Regions from separate parts of the Homo sapiens genome. Here all the other regions are linked to region 3. Evidence: fine-mapped expression QTL. A gene starts in region 3. Each other region holds a variant in brackets. All regions are shown on one strand. Distances are between the middles of the regions.

Region 1 (4,112 bases), 150 kb after region 3:
GAGACGTGCAAGGCTGGGTGATGCCTCCTATTTTACAGAGGGGGAAACTGAGGCTCCAGAAGGTAAGGGGCTGGCTCCAGGTGGAGGATGGGCTCAGGTGTGGCTGTGTCCCAGACCCCCTCTTCCCAGGACCCTGGCTGGCTTGCTGCCTGTGGGTGGTCACCAGCCCCCAGCAGGAGCCTCGAGTTTCTGGGCCTCCAGAGGGTGGGTGGGACCAGAGCCACCCCTGCCTCAGGCAAGATGGGGCTGGGGCCCATGGGGCAGGGGAGACCGCCAGGGCAGGGGTCCCCTCCCTGGGCCCCAGTGGGTGGGACAGAGGCCCCCAGGCTCCGGCTGCAAGGCGAGGCCTCGGTGGCGGCCACAATAAATATGTTTGTTCAAGGGAAGCCAGGCTGGGAGCTGTGTGCGCCGGCCCGGTGAGGAAGAAAAGGCCGCTTGTGCCTTGCACACTGGGGCGATTGTTCCTGCTCACGCAACTGCTGCCCCGTGGCCGGAAAGGTCAGACGGCCCTCGGGCCCCGTCGGAAGCACCGGTGCCTCGGGCCCCTTCGCTCGCGCCTGCTGTAACATTCGCCTGCGCTCCTCACTGCCCGGCTGCATCCACATCACCTCCAGGCCTTGGCACGGGGAGAGAAGGTACCAGGCAAGGTCTGAAAGATGGCCCAGCAAAGGCGAGGGAAGAAACGAAGCCAGGAGTCCCCTGCCCAGCCCAGGCGTCAGGAATAGTGTGGAAAGAGGAGGCCCCAGCTGGTGGCCTCAGCACCCTGAGGGAGTGGCTCTGGCCCCGAGGGTCTTCGCAGTGCCCACGGGGCAGCTTGTTTTGTGGACTATTGTTTGGATATTGGGGGATGCCAAGGTGAGGGTTGGGGAGAGGCCCAGGAGCACATGAGAGGTGCCAGCAATGCTCCTGAGGCAAGACCAAGCATCGTCCTCACCCACCAAACAGAAGGCTGAGAGGCACTGCCTGGCCGCAGCCCCGCTTCAGAGCAAATGGAGTCGACAGAGGCCACCACGCAGGCACTCCTGGCTCTCCCACAATTTAAAAACCCTAAAGGGCAAAAATCAGGAACTCAAGCCTGGTTTCCTCCCATTCCTCTGAAGGGGGAGGAAGGAACACAGGAGCCCACGGCTTGCAGGCCACACCTCGCTGGTCCCCTGCTGGCAAGGCGGCCTCCCTCTCCTCTCCTCTCTGCAGGAGACAGCTCTGTGAGATGGCTTCATCCAAAGGGCCCTCAGAATTGTGGTCCTGATGGTGAAGGCTGTGAGCAGCCGCTGCAGTGGTGTGATCAGACGCTCTAGCTGAGTGAGTTACCCACCACTGTCTTCCACCCGGAAGAGCTGGGAGATGGGGCCATAGGAGCCTCCTGGGTGGCTGGCAGAGGGGACAGGGACTCTGGACCAGCCCTCCCCTCCCTTGCTTCAGGCGCCTTTCTCTGGGCCTCAGGCCCTCCTGTGTGCGCTGCTGGGGGTGATTCTAGGAACCTGATCTCCATGACCACAGGGTCCCCCAAAAGATGGGTCTGTTCCGGAGGGCTTGCCTCAAGCAGCGAAGGGGACTCTGACATGGGAGGAAAGCCCTCTCCTGGGTGAGAACCTGGAGCCGCACCTCCTGTCCCGAGAGATGGCCGCCCTGGGTGTCCGCCTTCCCTGTGTCCGGTGCCCGAGTGGGCGTGTGGTGGGCGGCCTGCAGTGCTGGCTCCCTTTCCCAGGCCTCTCCCGCTGACACACAGCCGGAATGTGCCAGACTCACCAAGGCCTGAATTCC[C/T]GAGGGGTCTGGCATGCCGACTGTGGGACGAGGGCATTTGGGCATTGTTCTCTCCATGCAACAGTGGGGTGCATGGGCGGTGAGGCCCCTTGGATTCCGCCTGCCACCCTTGGCTTTATGAAGCTGCACCAGGTCTGACTCAGGCCTTGAGGAATTCAGCACCCCCTCGAGTGGGCACAGGGGACTGTACCTAGGGGCTGCCTCCCTCTGCCAGGCTGGGCAACGCAGCCCCTGCCGTGAACAGAGGTGCCTGGCTGCCCTCTCTTTCCCCCAGGTCCCTGAGGACCTTTGGGTCCAAGGTTGAGCTGTGAGGCCAAAGGAAGTGTTTGCTCCCAATGCAGGGCAACAAGGGCCTTCCTTTTCTATGAGCAAAGCTGGGCTCCCAGAGAGCGGCGGCTGGGAGGAGGCTGGGCCGGGGCTCTCATTTCTGTAGTTGGTTCAGCTGGGGGCAGCCTCTGGTCCATCTGGCCTGGTGCCCAGCCCTGCTTCTGGCCACAGCCACAGAGGCCTGCCACCAAAACGGCTCCAGCGTCTGTCCCCCATCCCTCCATTCTTCCCTCCTCTGCCCTTCGAAACCACCATTACTGAAGAACCCTGCGTCTCCCAGGGGCAGCCCCTCTTGGACCACCTGCAGCAGTTCATACCATAATCCGCCTCCCCCAGGGTAATGGGGCCTGGATAGGGAGACTCTGTGGCCATACAGGTCTCACCTCTGCACTGGATGCCTAGGGACAAAGTCCACCTGCCTCCTGGGGCCTCCCAGGCCCCCTGCAGTCTGTCTCTGCCAGACCCCACCACGCTGCTATTGACCGGCTCCTCCAGATCACCCCTGCACTCCCCATAAGAGAAAGAGGGAGGAAGGGAGGTTGTGAAGAGCGCAGGACAGAAGCAGAGACAAGGGGGCCGTGGGGAAAGGCCACAAGCCAAGGGAGGTGGGGCCTCCCTTTGAGCTTCCAGTGGGAACCAGCTCTGCTGGCTCCTTGAATGTAGCCCATGTCGGACATCTGACCTCCAGAGCTGTTAGATAATAAACGTGTCACTTAAAGCCACTAAGTTTGTGGGAATTCATTACAGCAGCCGTAAGAAGCTAAAATGGTCCCTCTCAAAACAGTCCTGAATCTACTACTTCCTCCTCGCCCTCCTGGTCCAGCTGCCATCCTCCGCCTGGACTAGTGCAGTGGCCTCCCTCCTGGTCTGCCAGGTCTGTCCCAGCCCCTCAGTGGTCCATTCTTGGCTCTGCAGCCAGAGTGACCCTGTTGCCATCTGCGCCAACCACACCGCACTCGGGGCCAGCCAGGGCTTCACGTGTCCTAGCTCTCGGGGTCCCAGCACATGGGTCTCCTTGCTGTCCTGCCAGCCTGTGGGCCCATCCCCACTTCAGGGCCTTTGCTGTGGCTGTACCCTCTCTCCACAATGCTCTTAGCCCTGACACCATGAGATTCACCTCGCTTTGGGGACACTGTAAGGTCCTCCACGACCCCATCCACAACAGGCCCCTTCCCCAAACCAGCCCTGCCTGTCTTTGTTTTCCCTTCCAAGCACTCTGTAGATAAATACTAAAGTGCAGCTGTCCCTCAGCACCCATGGGGACCTCCCGCAGGTACCCAAATCCACAGGTACTCAAGCCCCCGATACGAAATGGTGTGATACTGACATGGAGGCCACATACATCCTCCCATCTCCAGACCACTTACGATACCTAACAACACAAATGCTGCGTGACCCACTCTATTGTTTAGGGAATAACGACAAGACAAAAAGCCTGTACAAGTTCAGATGTTCAGCACAGATGCAACTTTCTTTCCAAACATTTTCCATCCACAGTTGGTTGAATCCATGGATGCAGAGCCCTTATACGTCTCCCATTGGTGGACATCCCTTTGGAATTTCGTATCAGTTTTGTATTGTCACTGCTGTCCCTGGCACCTGGAGCAGGCATTCAGTATTTGTGGAGTAAATGCCAACACATCTCACTTTAAGGACTTCACTATCTTCTTTCATTTAATCCACCTGGCAGTGCTACAATGTGGGGACTTTATTACCCCCATTGTATAGGTGTGGGCACCGAGGCACAGAGATTTGTCACGTCCAGGGCAGTCACTCGAGCCCGCAGCATGGCCTTAGCCCTGTGGCAGGGGGCTCAAGGGAGAAAGAGCTAGGCCAGACCAGCCCTTGCCCCTAGGCCTTGCTAAGCAGCTTCTCGGCAACAGGTCTGGACCCTCGGCCCCGGGAGAGCCCAGCTCATGGGTTCCTGGCCCGAGCGCCCTTTGTGCCCGCCTGGGGCAGGCGGGGGGTGGGAGTGTGCTACATAAACGGGCTATTGTTCTGTGACTACAGTTGCCAGCCCT
Region 2 (4,112 bases), 73 kb after region 3:
CCTCCATCTCCCCATCCATCCATTCATTCACCACTCATCCATCCATCCACCCACCCATCTCTTCATTTCCCCATCCATCCATCCACCCACCCACCATCCTTTTATTCAGCTCTCCTTCCCTCCATTTATCTATCCACCTCTTTATCCATTCATCCATCTCTCCACCCACCCACACACCCATCGATCCATCCATCCATCTATCCATCCATCCATCCATCCATCCCACCATCCATCCATCCTTTATTCAGCCCTCCTTCCCTCTATCTCTGCATTTATCCATCCACCTCTATCCATTCATGCATCTCTCCATCTACCCCCCCACTCAACCATCTATCCATCCATTCACCCACCTACCCATTCATCCATCCATTATCCACCCATCCCTTTATTCATCCCTCCTTCCCTCCATCTCTCCATTCATCCATCCACCTCTTTAACCATTCATCCATCTCTCCATCCACATACCCACACACCCATCCATCCATCATCCATCCATCCATCCATTTCTTTATTCAGCCCTCCTTCCCTCCATCTCTCTATTCATCCTTTCACCTCTTTATCCATTCATCTATCTCTTCATCCATCTAACCATCCATCCATCAACCATCCTTCCACGCATCCCTTTCTGCAACCCTCCCTCCCTGCAGCTCCCCGTCCATCTACCTACTCATCCGCCACTCACTCACACTCATTAATGCTCCCCACACCCCAGGCCTATGTGCCCGCCCTCATTCTTTCCACAAGCAGTGAGCAGCTGCCTCCTGTGTATCTTGCGGCAACAAGATCAAAAGGCACTGATGACGCAGTCACTGGCCTCCGGAGTGACAGCCCACCACCGACTAAAAATAGACCAGGATCAGCCGAGATGTTGGTCCTCCCCTCTGTTCCTTCTCTCATCCTTTGAGTCCCTGCCCCCTCGACAGAGGACATACTCCATGTGGCTGAATGGCTCCAGATCAAGGAGGGGACCATAGAGACAGGGGCTGGAGGTGTTGTCAGGACTTGGTGACCAGGCGCAGGGTTGAGGAAGGGGGAGAGTCATGAAAAGATGGCGGGGGAGGGGCATTTGCTCTAAGCACTGACGGGCAGGCGGGTTTGGGGGTGAAAAAGAGGTGCAGGTCTCCACCCCTGTGAGAGTGGGGAGCCCAGGTTCCCTGAATGGAGGTGCATGAGGACACAGGGCAGATGCCCTTGAATGAGCCCTGGGCATCAGAGGGCCTGCTGGCATCCTGAGGCCATCAGTGACCTCCATAAGCTACTCCAGGCACCTTGGGGCTGGGATGGAACTCCCTCCAGCTCTGCCAGCCCCTCAGTTTGACAGGTGACTCATGGTGCCAAGAGGAAGACAGGGCTCACAGTCTGTCGGGTTCTTCCTCTGTACCAGGCTCCGTTCTAGGCACAGGGTTCTCACAGGAGAGATGGTGCTGGCCAGCTCTGTCTTCTCAGAGCTTCTGTTCCAGCTGGAGAGCCAGGCCACAGCCTCCAGGCACAGGCACAGGCTGGGGCAGTAATGAGGGATTGGAGGCTGGGGCAGAGACCTGAGGCCATGAGGGGGCAGCTTTGCAGCCAGGAGAGGGCAGGTGCCAACAGCAGACTTCAGATGGTTTGAGGGCTGGCCATGGCACAACCCCAGGGTGCCACTCACACAGGCACAGAGGCCTTGAGGC[G/A]GAAGCCCCCAGGAGGCTGGGTGGAGTCAGGAAGGGGATGTTGCAAGGGCAGGCATGGGGCCCCGGGGGCGTGGGGCCTCGGGGGCGTGGGGCCCACGGCCATGGAAGGGTGCCTGGATTGCTTCCTAGGGAAGAGGGAGGCCATGGGGGGCTTGAGCAGGCAGTGCTGTGGTCTGGTTTATGTTTTAAAGTCCCTCTGGCTGCTGCATGGAGACAGGAATGTAGGGGGAGAGAGAAAGCCGGGAGCCCCTGGGGACGGGGCTGGCCCTCCTCTCCGGGAAGGAGCTCTGCCTTCATACATGCTGTTCCCGCCTCCCGGAAATGCCCTTCCGGCCCCGGCAGAGGCTGCAGTAGGAAGATCAGGGGCCACAGAGCCGGCCGGGCAGGCTGTGATGCAAATGTGTCCCCCATCATTTTCAACTGGAGCCCCCGAGCACTGCCAGGGTGGGGGAGGGAACGGAACCCTCCTCGGCGTCCCAGGTCTCAGGGAGGAAGGAGAGAAGGAAGCAGAGAGGGAGGGAAGGAGGGAAGGGGGAAAGAAGGAAGGAGAGAGAAGGAGGGAGGGGAGGACTTTGAGGAGGGACTCAGGCTTTTCATGTATGTGAGTTGACACATTTCCTTCTTAGACAAGTTTCAGGGGTGTTTCTGTTCCTTGAAACAGAAAGTTTGTGTGGGGACCAGCCGTCTGGGAGTGCATGGCCAAAGCTGGGGTCTGGGGGTCAGTGCAGGGAGCATGGGTGCCTGGGAGGCTTCCTGAGGAGGCGGCGGCTTAGAGAACCATGAGGGCTGGGCTGAGGGGTGGCCGGCGGTGCCAGGAGGACAGGAACGAGAGGCGGCACAGCCGGTGGGGCTGCGTGCCAGGGCGTGGGGTCTGCCTGGGGCAGGGCCTGAGCATGCCCCTGTGAGGACTGTCCCACTGTCATCCTGCGGCGGGCACTCGGGAGCTCAGGAAACTGTAGAACGGGAATGTGTTGCTCACTGAGCACCGTTTTCCAGGCTTGAGCCTGCAGGAAGCCTGGCTTTCGCCGGCCCCTCCTCTTTGGTGGTCTCCACCCATCCCAGCCACCGTTGCTCAGCTCCCAGGCCCACTGCTGCACCGTCTCCCACGCAGCCCCCCACACTGACCTCCTCCAGCCAGGGGTCTGCTGACCCTTGTGCTGCGCGCCCACTGGGACATCCCCATCCTGAATGTGCAGCCCTAGACCGCAGCCCAGAAGGAGGACGATCACAGAAGGTGGCTGCCAGCCACCCTGACGCTCGGCAAGGGCCCCGCCTGGGCTTGTCAGACCAAGCAGGGCCCTGTGTTCACCTTCTGTCCCCTCATGCGGCCTTTAGGGCAGTGAACCTCAAGAAGGTCTCCAGCGGCACAGACACAGGCACAGCCTCATGCGTGCAGGCCCATGGACTTGGCAGCCATTGCTCAAGTGACCCAGACACTGGCTCAGGAGAACGTTCTGCTGCCTTCACAAAGCACTGATAAGGGTGGAGGAGCTGTGTTTGCAGAGATGATTCCCCACCCCAGGAGGTCACAGGCTAGGACCAGTTGCGATAAGGGAAATCTGGGTTGTAACAGGGACAATGAGCCAGGGAAGCCGGACAGGGGTCGTGGGGACGGATTCCCACCAGGGGCTTCCTGGGGGAGGCTCCATTTGGATTGGGGTAGCTGTACAGGGGTGTGACAGGCTCCAGACAGGACACGGCACTGCGGAGGTGCACAGCCTGAGGGTGAAGGGACGCTAGGGTCCACGCCCACCCGGGTCTCGCCGGGGCTGTAAGGGTGCCAAGACTGGGCGGGGGTGAGTCTAAGCCATCTGCTGCTCTGAATGCCATGCTGGGAAGGCGGGAGTCCTTGTGGAGGCACACATCAGGCCCACAGCACCAAGACGATGGGAAGGGGCTGAGCATGAGGTCCATGTCCTGTCCCTCTGCCACAGCAGAGCGTCCTACAGGTGGGACTCCCGGCTGCCAGCCCTGTACCTCGAGCCCAAGCTCTCAGATGCAGCAGCCTCAGAGCTCTAACATATGGGGTTCCTCAGTGTAATGACAGGCACCTCCCCCAGTCATTGTCAACACATCCTAAATGCCAGCAGGCCCATCCATGCACAGATCCCGAGCAAACATTGAAAAACATTCAGAACATGAGAGAGAGGGGCCTGGCTGGCCAAACATAAACAGAAGATCAAGGAATTAAGCAGAACTTAAGATATAAGATGTATCTGGAGTCTCCAGAAAGATCCTAGGAGCTGTCGTGCCCATCAAATGAGGGCGGAATGCCATGACCACGGTCAGAGAGCAAGCGTGTGCTCTGGGATATTAAAAACAGGACTGCTAAAAACATTTCCTAGAACTCTGAAGAGATAAAGTTAAGAATATAATGCCATAAAAAAGGGGAAGAAAGTTGAGACATCAAAGTGTCATTAAAAATGTCTTCAGTCTGACTTAAAA
Region 3 (4,112 bases):
TAAAGTGGAAAAATAAAAGTAGGAAACCTAAGTGGAAACCAAACCAGAAAGCCAGGCAGCCCGGGAGTTCTGAGCCCTGCTTCCTTCCAGCTGTGCGGCCTCAGCGGCTGACGCGGTCTCTGCTGCTCTTCTATAACACAGGATGATGGCAGCTACACCCTCTGAGTGGTGTCACCAAGGCCAATGAGTCCTGATGGTTGGAGTGTGGGTATCCGGGGGCCTCTAGGTCACTACCCACTCTAGCCCTTTGCTCCTAGTCTCTGGGGAGGTGGCAGCATAGGGGCATGGAGCAGACTAGACTTTGCCTCTTTCTGCCCCCAGGCCAGTTGATATGAGCCCTGCTTGAGGGGTTCGCAGGGCCTGGGGAGCCTTCTTCAGCTTCTCTTTGTTTTCCTAAGATGAAAATTGTGACATCTGGGCTTGTTGCGGGAAATTTGTAAATTGTGCACAGAGAAGAATATGAAATTGCACATAAATCATGGCTTTTGGTTCCACCATCAAGAGCCAAGAATGGCCCTGGCCCCTCTCCTGGGTTAACGCCCTGTCCCATCCAGTTCACCCCCCTCACTTCAGATCTCGCTTCCCTGAGACCCAGAAGACCCGCCCTGCTCCCCCAGCTGCAGCTGCACACTGCCACAGCATTCCATGGGGGTGGGGGTGTCTTGGGACTCAAAGGCAGGCTGGTTGGGGTTCAGGGGACCGCACCTTCCCTCCCTCCCAGAGGTCTCTCTGCTGGCTCACAGGCTCACCTGAGATAGGGGCTTAGATCTCATGGGCTGCTGGACCCTCCAACAGGTGTCTGACAGTCCCCATCCCGATCTGGGAGGCTCCTGGTTTGAGGAGGGGGCTCCCTGCCTCATGGTAGGTGGGCCAAAAGGGAGGCAGCAGGAAATAATGGTCTCTTTTGGTCTGGCCTGGCTGGGGTGAAGCACCGTGTGTGTGCGTGCGTGTGTGTGTGTGTGTGTGTGTGCGTGCGCGCACGACCGAGGTCTGTACCAGGAAGGGCTGCAGGCGGGGGAGGGGCATGGTCCTTCACAGCCCCTTCCCCTATGACCTCGGGCAGATCTTTCACTTTTACCCAGTACAACAGCTTCCAGCCAGCCTGGACAGGCAGATCCCGGGGCTGGAGTGGTCTGGCCCAAGGCTGAGAAGGGCTGGGACCCCCGACAGTGACATGATGGGCTCAGCCCCTGTTCCATCTACTGGGCAGGGTGGGCCTCCGCAGATAGCGGCTTCAGACTCCAGCTCCAGGGGGCTGGTGGGAGTCTCTCAAGGTGTCCCACACATGGTCCCTCGGGGAAAGAGTGGAGCTGACCCCTGTCCCCCCTCCCGACTCGAGGGCCTTAGGGCCAGCAGGTGTGTGAGGGCTCCAGGCGCGCGGAGCCCTCGAAGGGACACCAGCCCAGCAGCAGCAGGCCGCGCGGGGGCAGCCGAAGACCCCATCCGGCGCAGGCCAGGGCCGAGCTGGCAGCGGCGGGTCCAAGCCTCGTCAGCTGGCGCAGGAGGCCCACGGGCGAGCGCGGGACGGAGCTGGGCGCCGGGGTCCGGACCGGGCCGGGGTCGAGTTGGGCCTGGCCGGACACCGGACCCGCCAGGAGCCGGCCCCTGCCGCGCTGGGCTGAGGCCCCCGCCTGCAGACAAAGGAGCCGGCGGGGGGCGGGAGCCGGGGGGGTGGGGGAGTGTTGCAGGGGGGATGGGGCGAGGGGGCGGGCGTCGCGGTGTCACGTTACCGCCCGCAGCGCCCTTTAACTCCCGCCCCCGCCCCGCTCACCGCCCCCTTCCCCTGCTACAGCGCGCTCGCCCCGCGGCCGCCAATCAGCCGCGCGCCCCGGCCGCGCGCCCCGCCCCGCCCCCGGTGGGTGTGCGCGCGGCCAATGGGCGGTGCGCGGGGGCCGGGCCGCGGCGGGGCGGGGCAGCGGGGCGGCCGCCAATCGCCGTGGTGTTGTTGAAACTGAAAATACTACATTATGCTAATCGCGGCCGGGCCCGCGCGCACGGGGGTGGGGCCCGCGCGTATAAAGGGGGCGCAGGCGGGCTGGGCGTTCCACAGGCCAAGTGCGCTGTGCTCGAGGGGTGCCGGCCAGGCCTGAGCGAGCGAGCTAGCCAGCAGGCATCGAGGGGGCGCGGCTGCCGTCCGGACGAGACAGGCGAACCCGACGCAGAAGAGTCCACCACCGGACAGCCAGGTAGCCGCCGCGTCCCTCGCACACGCAGAGTCGGGCGGCGCGGGGTCTCCCTTGCGCCCGGCCTCCGCCCTCTCCTCCTCTCCTTTCCCCTTCTTCTCGCTGTCCTCTCCTCTCTCGCTGCCCGCGTTTGCGCAGCCCCGGGCCATGTCCGACGCGTCCCTCCGCAGCACATCCACGATGGAGCGTCTTGTCGCCCGTGGGACCTTCCCAGTACTAGTGCGCACCAGCGCCTGCCGCAGCCTCTTCGGGCCGGTGGACCACGAGGAGCTGAGCCGCGAGCTGCAGGCCCGCCTGGCCGAGCTGAACGCCGAGGACCAGAACCGCTGGGATTACGACTTCCAGCAGGACATGCCGCTGCGGGGCCCTGGACGCCTGCAGTGGACCGAAGTGGACAGCGACTCGGTGCCCGCGTTCTACCGCGAGACGGTGCAGGTGGGGCGCTGCCGCCTGCTGCTGGCGCCGCGGCCCGTCGCGGTCGCGGTGGCTGTCAGCCCGCCCCTCGAGCCGGCCGCTGAGTCCCTCGACGGCCTCGAGGAGGCGCCGGAGCAGCTGCCTAGTGTCCCGGTCCCGGCCCCGGCGTCCACCCCGCCCCCAGTCCCGGTCCTGGCTCCAGCCCCGGCCCCGGCTCCGGCTCCGGTCGCGGCTCCGGTCGCGGCTCCGGTCGCGGTCGCGGTCCTGGCCCCGGCCCCGGCCCCGGCTCCGGCTCCGGCTCCGGCCCCGGCTCCAGTCGCGGCCCCGGCCCCAGCCCCGGCCCCGGCCCCGGCCCCGGCCCCCGCCCCGGCCCCGGCCCCGGACGCGGCGCCTCAAGAGAGCGCCGAGCAGGGCGCGAACCAGGGGCAGCGCGGCCAGGAGCCTCTCGCTGACCAGCTGCACTCGGGGATTTCGGGACGTCCCGCGGCCGGCACCGCGGCCGCCAGCGCCAACGGCGCGGCGATCAAGAAGCTGTCCGGGCCTCTGATCTCCGGTGAGCCCCGCACGGCCCCGCCCCGGCCCGGCCCGGCCCCGCTTTGTCCGGCCGGCCGGTCCCCCCAGCCCTCGGGGGCCTCGCTGGGTTCCCGCCTCCTCCCGTGGCATTAAAGGGCCCGCAGCGCTCAGGGCGCGGCTGCGCCCTTACCCCCCTCCCCGCCCCGTTGTTGTGCCCTCCAGCGGCTTCGCGCGGGCGGGGTGGGAGGCTGAATCCCGGCCGCGACCCCCCGGGAGCGCAGTTTTCGCCCCCGGCCGCGGGAGCCCCTCCCCGGGCGCGGCCGGGCGCCGTGAGCACGGCGTGGAGGGGGTTAAGCGCGGCGGCGGCCCCGGGGGGCTTGGCCGCGGGACAAGGGGAAATGCTTACACAGCACATTGCGCGGCGACGTAAACAAAGCTGACCCGCCGCGGACCTCGGCGCGGGCGGGGACGGCGCCCCCACCCCGGCCGGCCCGCGCCCCGCGCCCTCTCCCGGCCCCCTCTCGGGTCTCCGGGCCGGCCCCGCCCTGACCGGCCGCGCGCGCTGTCGCCCGCAGATTTCTTCGCCAAGCGCAAGAGATCAGCGCCTGAGAAGTCGTCGGGCGATGTCCCCGCGCCGTGTCCCTCTCCAAGCGCCGCCCCTGGCGTGGGCTCGGTGGAGCAGACCCCGCGCAAGAGGCTGCGGTGAGCCAAGTGAGTACAGCGCACCTGGGGGGGCGCGGAGGGCCGACCCGCCGGGTCCCCGCCGGCTTTGCTGACCGCCCCTCTCCTCGCAGTTTAGAGCCCAAAGAGCCCCGAGGGAACCTGCCGGGGCAGCGGACGTTGGAAGGGCGCTGGGCCTCGGCTGGGACCGTTCATGTAGCAGCAACCGGCGGCGGCTGCCGCAGAGCAGCGTTCGGTTTTGTTTTTAAATTTTGAAAACTGTGCAATGTATTAATAACGTCTTTTTATATCTAAATGTATTCTGCACGAGAAGGTACACTG
Region 4 (4,102 bases), 48 kb after region 3:
CCCTGCTGCCTTCCCTCCCCCAGCTGGCTCCAGCCACCAGAGCCTCCCTTCCTCTTCCTCTCGGCCCGCACGCCTTCCTGGATTCTCCCTCGGCTCAGCCCTCACCTCGTCATAGCCCCCAGGGGGTCTATGTGTGCCGTGTCTGCTGACATGAGCCGGTGCCACATGGCCCCGTGCTCCTGGACACGCAGCCACCTCCCTCCCTGCATCTGGGTTGGGGCTGACGTTTGTGCCAGAGCCAGAGCTGTCACATCCACAGCCTCACAGACCTGCAGAGGCTGCTCCGTGCGGACATTCATGTCAACTTCAGGGTGGGGACAGAGGTCATGGAGGGAGTCAGTGGCAGAGCCAGGGGGGCCCACGTGGCACAACACTCCCTGGGTGGCACTGGAGCCCCTTTGCCCTCTTCCCTTGGAAGGGGCCTGGGCAGGAGGCCCAGGTGCACCCAGAGGCCAGGGAGCTGCCTCACTGCCAGGCAGGTGGGAGGGGGTGGGGAAGCCCCAGGCTGGGATGGGGTCTCGAGCCTCCCCCAAGGGCTGGCCTATCCCTAGCCCGGCCTCAGGAGCTTCCTGCCGGCAGACGCCAGGCAGGGGCGGCTCTGTCCAAGAGCCCGAGGCAGCTGCCCACCTGCCCACCTGCCCACCTGCCCACCTAGTGCAACCCCGGGCAGGGCTCGTCCCATCGGCCTCTGTTTGGGGGCCAGGCGGGCAGGAACGTCGGGCAGGCTGGGGGCCCAGGAGCCGTGTTTGTGCTGGCGGTGGGCACAGGCCCCACCTGCATTTGATTCTCTGCCGCTGCCTCCTGAGCTGCCCCCTCTGGCGAGCCCGCAGAGGCCCGGAGGCCAGGGGACACCAGGCAGAACACTTTGTTCGGGCAGCCAGCGAGCGCTCTGCTGCCTCAGCCAAACCCCAGCCCGGCCACGGGGGCAGGTGGGCAGGGGAAGCCAGGGCTGCCTGGCCGTTCTCGTGTCATTGCTCCAGGTCTGCCCACATCGGCCCTGCTGCCCCCACATCCTCCCCTACCCTGGGCCCTCAGCCACTTGCTGGGCCATCTGGAACCTCTGAGCGCACCAGCCCCTAGGACCCCAGCAATACCCCTCGCTGTCCCCGGAAGTCCACAAGCAGACCTTAGATACTTCCTCTCGCCTCCCTTCCCCAGCCCAGCAGGGTGGCCCCATACCACTGGAAGTCAGACCCCTGTCAGTCATAGGCTCTAACCCTCAGTGGCTCCGGATCAATGCCAGAGTCCGCTCACAACCCTGTGGTCTGGCCCAGCCCCCATCCCTGGCCTCACTCTGCAGCCTGCTTCCCGGCGCGCCGGTCCCTGGCCCCCAGCCCCAAGCCTGCTTCCTTCTTTCTGCATGCCGTTTCACACTCCTCCAGGTGCCTGACGGGCATGTGGATAGTTTGGCACCTGTCCCCCGACCCTGCCAGTGGCTGTGAGCCACGTGAGGTCAGTCTGGCTTCCTTCCATCCCCACCTCTGTCTGCCTGGTCCCTACTGGTGGTGTTTGCTTCTCAGAAGTAGGTCCCCTTCCTGAAACTGCCCTTGGCGTGCAGCAGGTATACCCTAAATATTCCTGAATTTGGGACGGGACGTTTCTGGGCTGGCTTCCTCAGTCTGTCCCACGTTGCCACCATTTTTCTCTAAGACAGAGGCCTCTGGGGCCCATGACCCCCTCTCCTTCCTGCAGACAGAGAAAGCACCGGCACCTGCTGATCTCCCACACCACAATGTCCACTTGCTGGGCGAGAACCTTTGAGGCATCCCTGCTGTTCTCGAGATACCAGCCTCGGCTGAGGGTCCCTCGCCGCCGGCCCCTGTGGCCCCCTGGGCGCCGCCCTTCTCGCCCCAGAGCCGGTTTCCTCTGGTTCCTACCTCAGGACCCTCACATGGGCTGGCCCTGCCTCCTGGAGCATCCACCCCTCTCCTTAGCCTCCAGACCCTTCTCATTCTCCAGGCCCCAGGTGAGGGTCTCCTTGGTGAGGCCCCCTCCCTTCCCCCTCCTGGTTTGGCTGTGGCCACTTCCCCTGCTTTCCATCCCCCACCTCTGTCTGCCCGGTTCCTGCTGGTGGTGTGTGCTTCTTAGAGGCCGCCTCCCCGAGGGCAGGGCACTGCACAGCCAACAACAGTTCAATGGCCTCTTGCTCGCTGGGAGACCCTGGGCCTTGGTCACCTCTCGAGCAGGGAGGGGCCGGGGAGTCTGTTCTGTGGCACAGTGCAGCCTGGGGGCTCAGGCCCGGGCGTGTCTGGGAAC[G/A]GAGGCTGTGAGCGCGGAGCGGGCTCTCCTGGGCCCCAGGCCACTCCCTGGGCCTGAAGGGAGGGGCTCAGGGGAAGGATGAGGCCCCTCGTCCCCAGCTCCCTGGGCACCACTGAGAGGCCTCTGGCCACCTCCGTCCCTCAACATTGGCCACGCCCACAGCCTGCTGTGTTCTGTCTCCACCCAGGCCTCTCCCCGGGCGCTCTTGGCTGTCCCTGCTGGCTCAAGACGGTGTCCTCTCTCTGGACACTCGAGAGGCTGCCCAGGGTGCTCCCAAACACGCACACCATGTGAGCCTCTTCCTCCGCCCTACGTGCCCCATCCTGCCCATCCCCAGGAGAGGGCTGCCATGCCCCGTGCCCCCAGCCCACGGGCTCTCTGCGGCTGGGGTGCTTGTCTTCCTGAACCCTTTCTGTGAACGCCTCACATGTTTGCTTCAAAATTAGTCTGTGTACAGGGTTTTTCATGGTATAAGTACCCTATGAAGACGTTCTCCCGCCAAATAAAGACATTTCAAAGACACATCTCCATTTCACCTGCCCCATTTCCCTCTAGGGCCCCTGCCTGCCAGGTAACCAGCTTAGGGATCTGATGTTTCTCCTTCCAGCAACTTTGATACGCAGCTCGTGCCTGGTTCTGCCTGGTCAGCGAGGTTTAGCACGAGTGAGGCGAGGCGTGATGTGACACACATGTGGCTCTCCACTGCTTGTTTCCATGCGACACACTTGTGGAGGCTGCACGTAGAATCACGGGGACAGTGCTGGCTCCTGGGACGGCTGTGCAGCCCTCCTTTCTGTGGGGATTGCTGACATCACCACCCAGTCCCTGCTGGTGGGCGTGGAGGCTGAGGGCTCCACAGGCCAAGTCTTTCTGCCTACATGTGCTGGTGTTCGGGGGGAGGGGTCCCCTCTTCTGGGGAGCTTGGTGGCAGCAGCCAGGCTGTGCTCTCCCACCTCCTCCCCTTGGAGTGCAGTCCGGCCTCACCCTCTACCTCCTGGGTGAAAACTTCTACCTCCGGCCTGAAACGTCACCATGCCTCCCCACAGACAGACGGATGGACAGATGGGCCTCCCTGCACCTGCTCTGTGGGTGTGGGGGCTCCTGCTCAGCAGCAGTTTCCAGACCCTTCTCCCTGCTTTCCCCAAGCCACCCGCCTTGAATCTGGGGTGCTCTACCAGACCCATCCCCTCATTTCTAAAGATTTGAGCCACTAGTCGTGTCCCTCTCCCTCAGAAATGCCTTGGTGACACTTGGCTGCTTTCAACTCTTCCACCCATCTGCCTCTTGGTCTCATCTTTACCTTCTGCTAAAGGTCCTGACCCCCACCCCCGCCACGCCACGGGGCACCCCATGGTGGTGCGTCCTTGGGAGCAGCTCTGTCCCTTTCCCCGTGGCCTTTGCCCCGCCTCCTATGACTTCGATTCCCACCTGTCCCCGACCCCTGGGACCACTGACCGGGCCCGATCACCCTGTCACTGCCCTGTCATCTGCTTACCCCACACGGTGCTCTGCTGACCCAGGTCTTGCTGTCTCCCAACAGCCCCACGAGGCTTCCCGTCGCTCCTGGACACTGCAGGCTGAGCCCGCTGCCCCGCCGCCTCCATGAGGAAGGCTTTTCCTCTGTGAGCCCCAGGCCACCCTTTCCCTCCTTTAAGTAATTACTTAAGTCCCTTGCCAGGGCCCTCCCAGTACCCTTTCTAAAGACACCCCTGCCCCAGCATGCTGCAGGCTCCTGCTCCACTTTCCTCTCAGGCCCTCGTCGCTGTGGTGCTGCCTTTGTTTTCTGTCTCTGCCACGGCAGGGGGTCAGCTCCTTGGAGGTGGGGCTTCTGCCCTTGCTGTACCAC
Region 5 (4,112 bases), 330 kb after region 3:
CTTTTTTTCTTTTTTTTTTTTTTTGAGACGGAGTCTCGCTGTCGCCCAGGCTGGAGTGCAGTGGCGCAATCTCGGCTCACTGCAGGCTCCACCCCCTGGGGTTCACACCATTCTACTGCCTCAGCCTCCCGAGTAGCTGGGACTACAGGCGCCCGCCACCTCGCCCGGCTAATTTTTTGTATTTTTAGTAGAGACGGGGTTTCACCGTGTTAGCCAGGATGGTCTCGATCTCCTGACCTCGTGATCCGCCCGCCTCGGCCTCCCAAAGTGCTGGGATTACAGGCCTGGGAGTTCCTATCTGTCCTGCAGGGCACCGCGCAGCCTCACTCTCCCTGCAGTGAAGCCCTCCCCCATCCACTGCTGCCTCTGCTGGGATCCCTCCTTTCCTCCACGTCTGTCCTCATCCCACCCAGAGCGCCCTAAAGTCAGGGGCCCGCCTTCTCCACCTGCAAGCTCAGTGCTGAGACCAGCTCACTACCCACCTTGTGCCCAAAATCCTGCTGAGAAACTTCAGGCAGGGGACAGGTGTGTCTCCCTCCCAGGCACCTGCCTTGTGGGTGCTGTACTTGGGGTGTGGAAGGGGAGGCTGAGGGGCCCGTAAAGACCTGAAGACCCCCACTCTGGACATCATCCCCCATGTTTGGGATGTTACTGTCTCCCCCAGGATGGACGTCACCCCCCCCCGCCCCCCCAGAAGGAACATCACCTTCCCCCGTCCCCCAAGGATGAACATCACCCGCCCCCAGGATGGACGTCACCCCCCGTCCCCCCAGGATGGACATCCCCCACCGTCCCCCCAGGATGGACGTCACCCCCCAGTCCCAGGATGGACGCCACCCCCCAGTACCCCCAAGATGGATGTCACCCCCCCCATTCCCCCAGGATGGACGTCACCCCCCTGTTCCCTCAGGATGGACGTCACCGCCCCCACTCCCCCAGGATGGACGTCACCGCCCCCACTCCCCCAGGATGGACGTCACCCCCCCATCCCCCAAGGATGGACGTCACGCCTCCGTCCCCCCAGGATGGATGTCACCCCTCCCCAGGATGGACATCACCCCCCTCATTCCCCTGGGCTGGACATCTCCCCCCCATGTCTGAGATGCTAACCCCCTCCTGACCGGATGTCACGGCCCCCCATGGCTGAGATGCTGCTATCTGTCCCCAGGCTGGCGGTACCCCCTCCCCCGTGTTTGGGACGCTGCCTCTCCCCACAGGGCACCTCTGGAGCTCCTCCTGGTCTGGCTGCCCCTCTCTGAAGTCACTGGAACACTCTGGGGGTCCTGGCCCTGCAGGAAGACACACCCAGGAAACCAGCGGAAGCCACACACCAGGCCCCACCCTGACTTCCCATGGGACCCCAGAGACAGAGAGGGAGGAAGGAGCCCCTGCCCAGGAAGCAGGCAGCAGAGCCCTAGCCACAGGCCTTCCCACAGCTGGCGGCCATCTCTGACCTTCAGAGCTGCAATCGGCCAGCTGCTCTGTGTGCTTGTCTCCCCGTTAATGATTTCGGGGTGACTCTGGGAGGCACGAGGCCGCTTTCCCTCCAGAACTAGCCCCACCTGCCAGCTGCCCGGACGTGTCTTCTTCCTGGTGAGCGAGAGAGGCAAGGGACTTGCTGGGTCGTCATGGGGATGGCCGTTCCCATCCACCGGGCAGCCGGGCCCTGCAAGTGGGTGACAGCTGTCGTCTGGTCCCCACATCCCGGACACCATCCTGACAGGCGGCATGAGGCCCAGTGTCCCCTGTGGGCTGTCTGGGGAGACTCTCAGGAGGCTAAAACCACAGGGGCTGGCCCTCCCCCTGCCCCGGGCTCTACGTCTAAGTAGCCACAAGGGCACATCCCGGGGTGTCAACAAGATCCAGGGCTTTCCTGATCCTCCCTGTGCCTGCGTCTACCCCTGGCCTAAGGGGAGCCATGTTCACACATTTCTCTACGACCCTCCAGGCCCCAGGACTGATTCCATAAGGCCTTGGGTGTCGAATGCATCCTCTCCACGGGCTTCCCGGGAAGCACCTCTGGGAAGACTGCCTGGTAGGCTTTCAGAGAGCAACGAAAGTGCAATATTTTGCTCAAGGGACACTCCTTGAGCAAAACCTCCCTGCAGGCCAAGGCTCAAGTGACCCCTCTTGCTGAGCCGGTGCCTCCAGCCCCACCTTGCCCCTTGTCCGTAGCTCTGGGAGTAACTGCAAACTCTTGACATTTGTCACTCAGGTACCTCACCTGGGTCTGAGCAGGAGGTGCTCAAGGCAGCTGGCCCCATGTGTGGGTGTAGTGGGGGAGGCTTCTCAGGGTGGAGG[G/A]GTTAGCTAAGAAAGGAACTTGGACCACACCCTGGGCCTAGCACATTCTTGGGCCCATTATCATTGGGGCCAAATCTTTCCCAGGACTGCCGGCTTCCGGGCCTTGGCCTCCCCATGAAGGCTGCCCACCCATGGAGGGGAGGAGAGTGGGGCCTCTCAGTAATTTTAATTTCACATGTACTGCCGGTGCCTTACGGGGGCCGACTAGAGTTACACACGTTTCAGGCGGTTTAATGAGGTGCCTCCAGCCCTGGGACCCAGCTCGCTGCGCAAGCCGGCGGGGTGGGGGTTCCCGAAGCGCGGCCCACTTCCTCCCCCACCTGGGTGTTCTCAAGGTCAGGAGGCGGACACAGGGCGCAGCAGCCACCTGACACCTGCCTGGGGTGGGAGAGGCAGATGGCGCTAGGCAGAGTGCCCACAGGCTGGCCCATCTAGTCTCTGCTCCGAACTGGGCTTATCAGCAGATTCTGATGAAGCAAAAACTATGTGGACCCCCCCGCCTGGAGACCCCCAGCACACTGAATCAACCCATCACCTGGCAAGGGGTGAGAACCCAGGACGCACTGAATAAACACGTATGCTTACACAGTGTGCAAGGCACATACTTCATTACTTTCAGGCAATAGATGAATTTCAATCCACGTGGGGGACAACATTTGCAAACACAGTGAAGCCACCAGCAAGCGATGTGGGCACTGGCATGGAATTTACAAAATAAAAGCATCTACAGTTGGTGCTGGGGGGCAGCTGGAGTGATGTAGGGGCTGGGGCAGGCAGCGGGGCCTACGTCTCATAACGCCCTACAGGGCCCGCACTTCCCACATCAATCTCTTCTTTCTGGCTATTTAGGAGAGTGTTGTTTAATTCCCAAATAGGTAAGGGATTTTTCTTCCCCAATCTTTTAATCATTTATTTCTCATGATATTGGGTTTTGATCAGAGAACATGGCCAGTTAAATCTCAATTTTTTGAGGTAGGTTAGATTTGTTTGTAGCCACATGAATGATTGGTTTTGTAAGTGTTCCGCAGACATAAGGGAACAAAACAACTCCATTACTAGGGTTCGAAGTGATAGTGCTGGTTTTAAAGCACAGTCCTATGAAGTTCTTTGCCAGTCCTCCCCAACTGAACCTGGGCTCTGTGACACCTGCATCAGGAGAATACAGCCAGGTGGCTCTCAGTCCCTGGCACTGCCTGTCTCCTGGACTGTTCATTTCTGAGATGTGAGGAATCCATGCAGCCTTGGAGAAGCCCTCATGAACAGGAGCCTTACCAGCCATGTAGATGCAATGCTGTGGAGGCTCCAGCCCCAGCTGATACTATGCAGAGGGGAGATGAGCCGTCCCACTGAGCCCTGCCAGACTGTAGGCTAGCGAGCTCAGGCGTGATGCGTATTTTGAAGGTGCTAGATTTGTGGATGGTTTGTTACATGGCTATAGATAACAAGAACAGGAGTTATTTCAAATTACTGTTAGAATCTGAAATTGCTCATGATTACAACATTTACCTGTCCATGTCCTCACTTATTTTGTGCCCACTAGAACTGTCCTATTCCAAAAGAGGTACATTAAAATCTCCTCCCGTTATCATATTTAACCTTCCTGTCCTTGCAGATTTTCAATAGTTTTTGCTTTATGTATTTTATGTTGTATGATGCCTTAAAGATTACAGTCAGGTCTTCTAATAGTGCCTGATCTCATTCACACTTGTCTTGTTTGGGCTTCAGTGTTGATATTCATCCTGATCTCCCTGTTTTTTCTCTCCTTTTCTTCTTTTAGCTTGCAGTTTCTTGGCCTCTCTTTGGCCATTCCT

Alleles and levels. Positions count from the first base shown, and alleles are read on the strand shown. Sizes are in standard deviations (SD) of each study's normalised expression. Not every link is listed here.
In carriers of allele T in region 1, the expression in tibial nerve of the gene that starts at base 2,045 in region 3 tends to be higher than with C alone (small effect, 0.34 SD a copy in GTEx).

The links. PIP is the estimated chance that this variant, and not a neighbour inherited with it, causes the effect.
Region 1: its variant is fine-mapped to the expression of CDKN1C in tibial nerve (GTEx, PIP above 0.99).
Region 2: its variant is fine-mapped to the expression of CDKN1C in whole blood (TOPMed, PIP above 0.99).
Region 4: its variant is fine-mapped to the expression of CDKN1C in whole blood (TOPMed, PIP above 0.99). The same link has a PIP of 0.9 or more in blood mononuclear cells.
Region 5: its variant is fine-mapped to the expression of CDKN1C in whole blood (TOPMed, PIP above 0.99).

Annotation. Positions count from the first base shown.
Region 1 is chr11:2,729,016-2,733,127 of GRCh38, reverse strand. The region is part of intron 11 of KCNQ1 (potassium voltage-gated channel subfamily Q member 1); the gene reads right to left. Among named protein-coding and RNA genes, the nearest start is that of KCNQ1OT1, 31 kb to the right of the region's middle. RefSeq lists an enhancer at 1,211-1,380. The variant C/T (reference allele first, on the strand shown) is at 1,765.
Region 2 is chr11:2,810,392-2,814,503 of GRCh38, reverse strand. All of the region lies in intron 15 of KCNQ1 (potassium voltage-gated channel subfamily Q member 1), which reads right to left. Among named protein-coding and RNA genes, the nearest start is that of KCNQ1-AS1, 49 kb to the left of the region's middle. RefSeq lists enhancers at 1,707-2,470, 2,471-3,233. The variant G/A (reference allele first, on the strand shown) is at 1,668.
Region 3 is chr11:2,883,708-2,887,819 of GRCh38, reverse strand. CDKN1C (cyclin dependent kinase inhibitor 1C) reads left to right here and starts at 2,045. Exons shown (of 4, transcript NM_001122630.2): 1 at 2,045-2,186; 2 at 2,354-3,150; 3 at 3,686-3,821; 4 at 3,905-4,112. The coding sequence starts at 2,364. The coding sequence ends at 3,816. It overlaps SLC67A1-AS (SLC67A1 antisense RNA), which reads left to right. Exons shown (of 3, transcript NR_169305.1): 3 at 1-476. RefSeq lists enhancers at 548-1,383, 1,384-2,219, 2,220-3,055.
Region 4 is chr11:2,835,561-2,839,662 of GRCh38, reverse strand. The region is part of intron 15 of KCNQ1 (potassium voltage-gated channel subfamily Q member 1); the gene reads right to left. Among named protein-coding and RNA genes, the nearest start is that of KCNQ1-AS1, 24 kb to the left of the region's middle. RefSeq lists enhancers at 2,960-3,826, 3,827-4,102. The variant G/A (reference allele first, on the strand shown) is at 2,257.
Region 5 is chr11:2,557,113-2,561,224 of GRCh38, reverse strand. The region is part of intron 2 of KCNQ1 (potassium voltage-gated channel subfamily Q member 1); the gene reads right to left. Among named protein-coding and RNA genes, the nearest start is that of KCNQ1, 110 kb to the right of the region's middle. RefSeq lists an enhancer at 1-354. The variant G/A (reference allele first, on the strand shown) is at 2,302.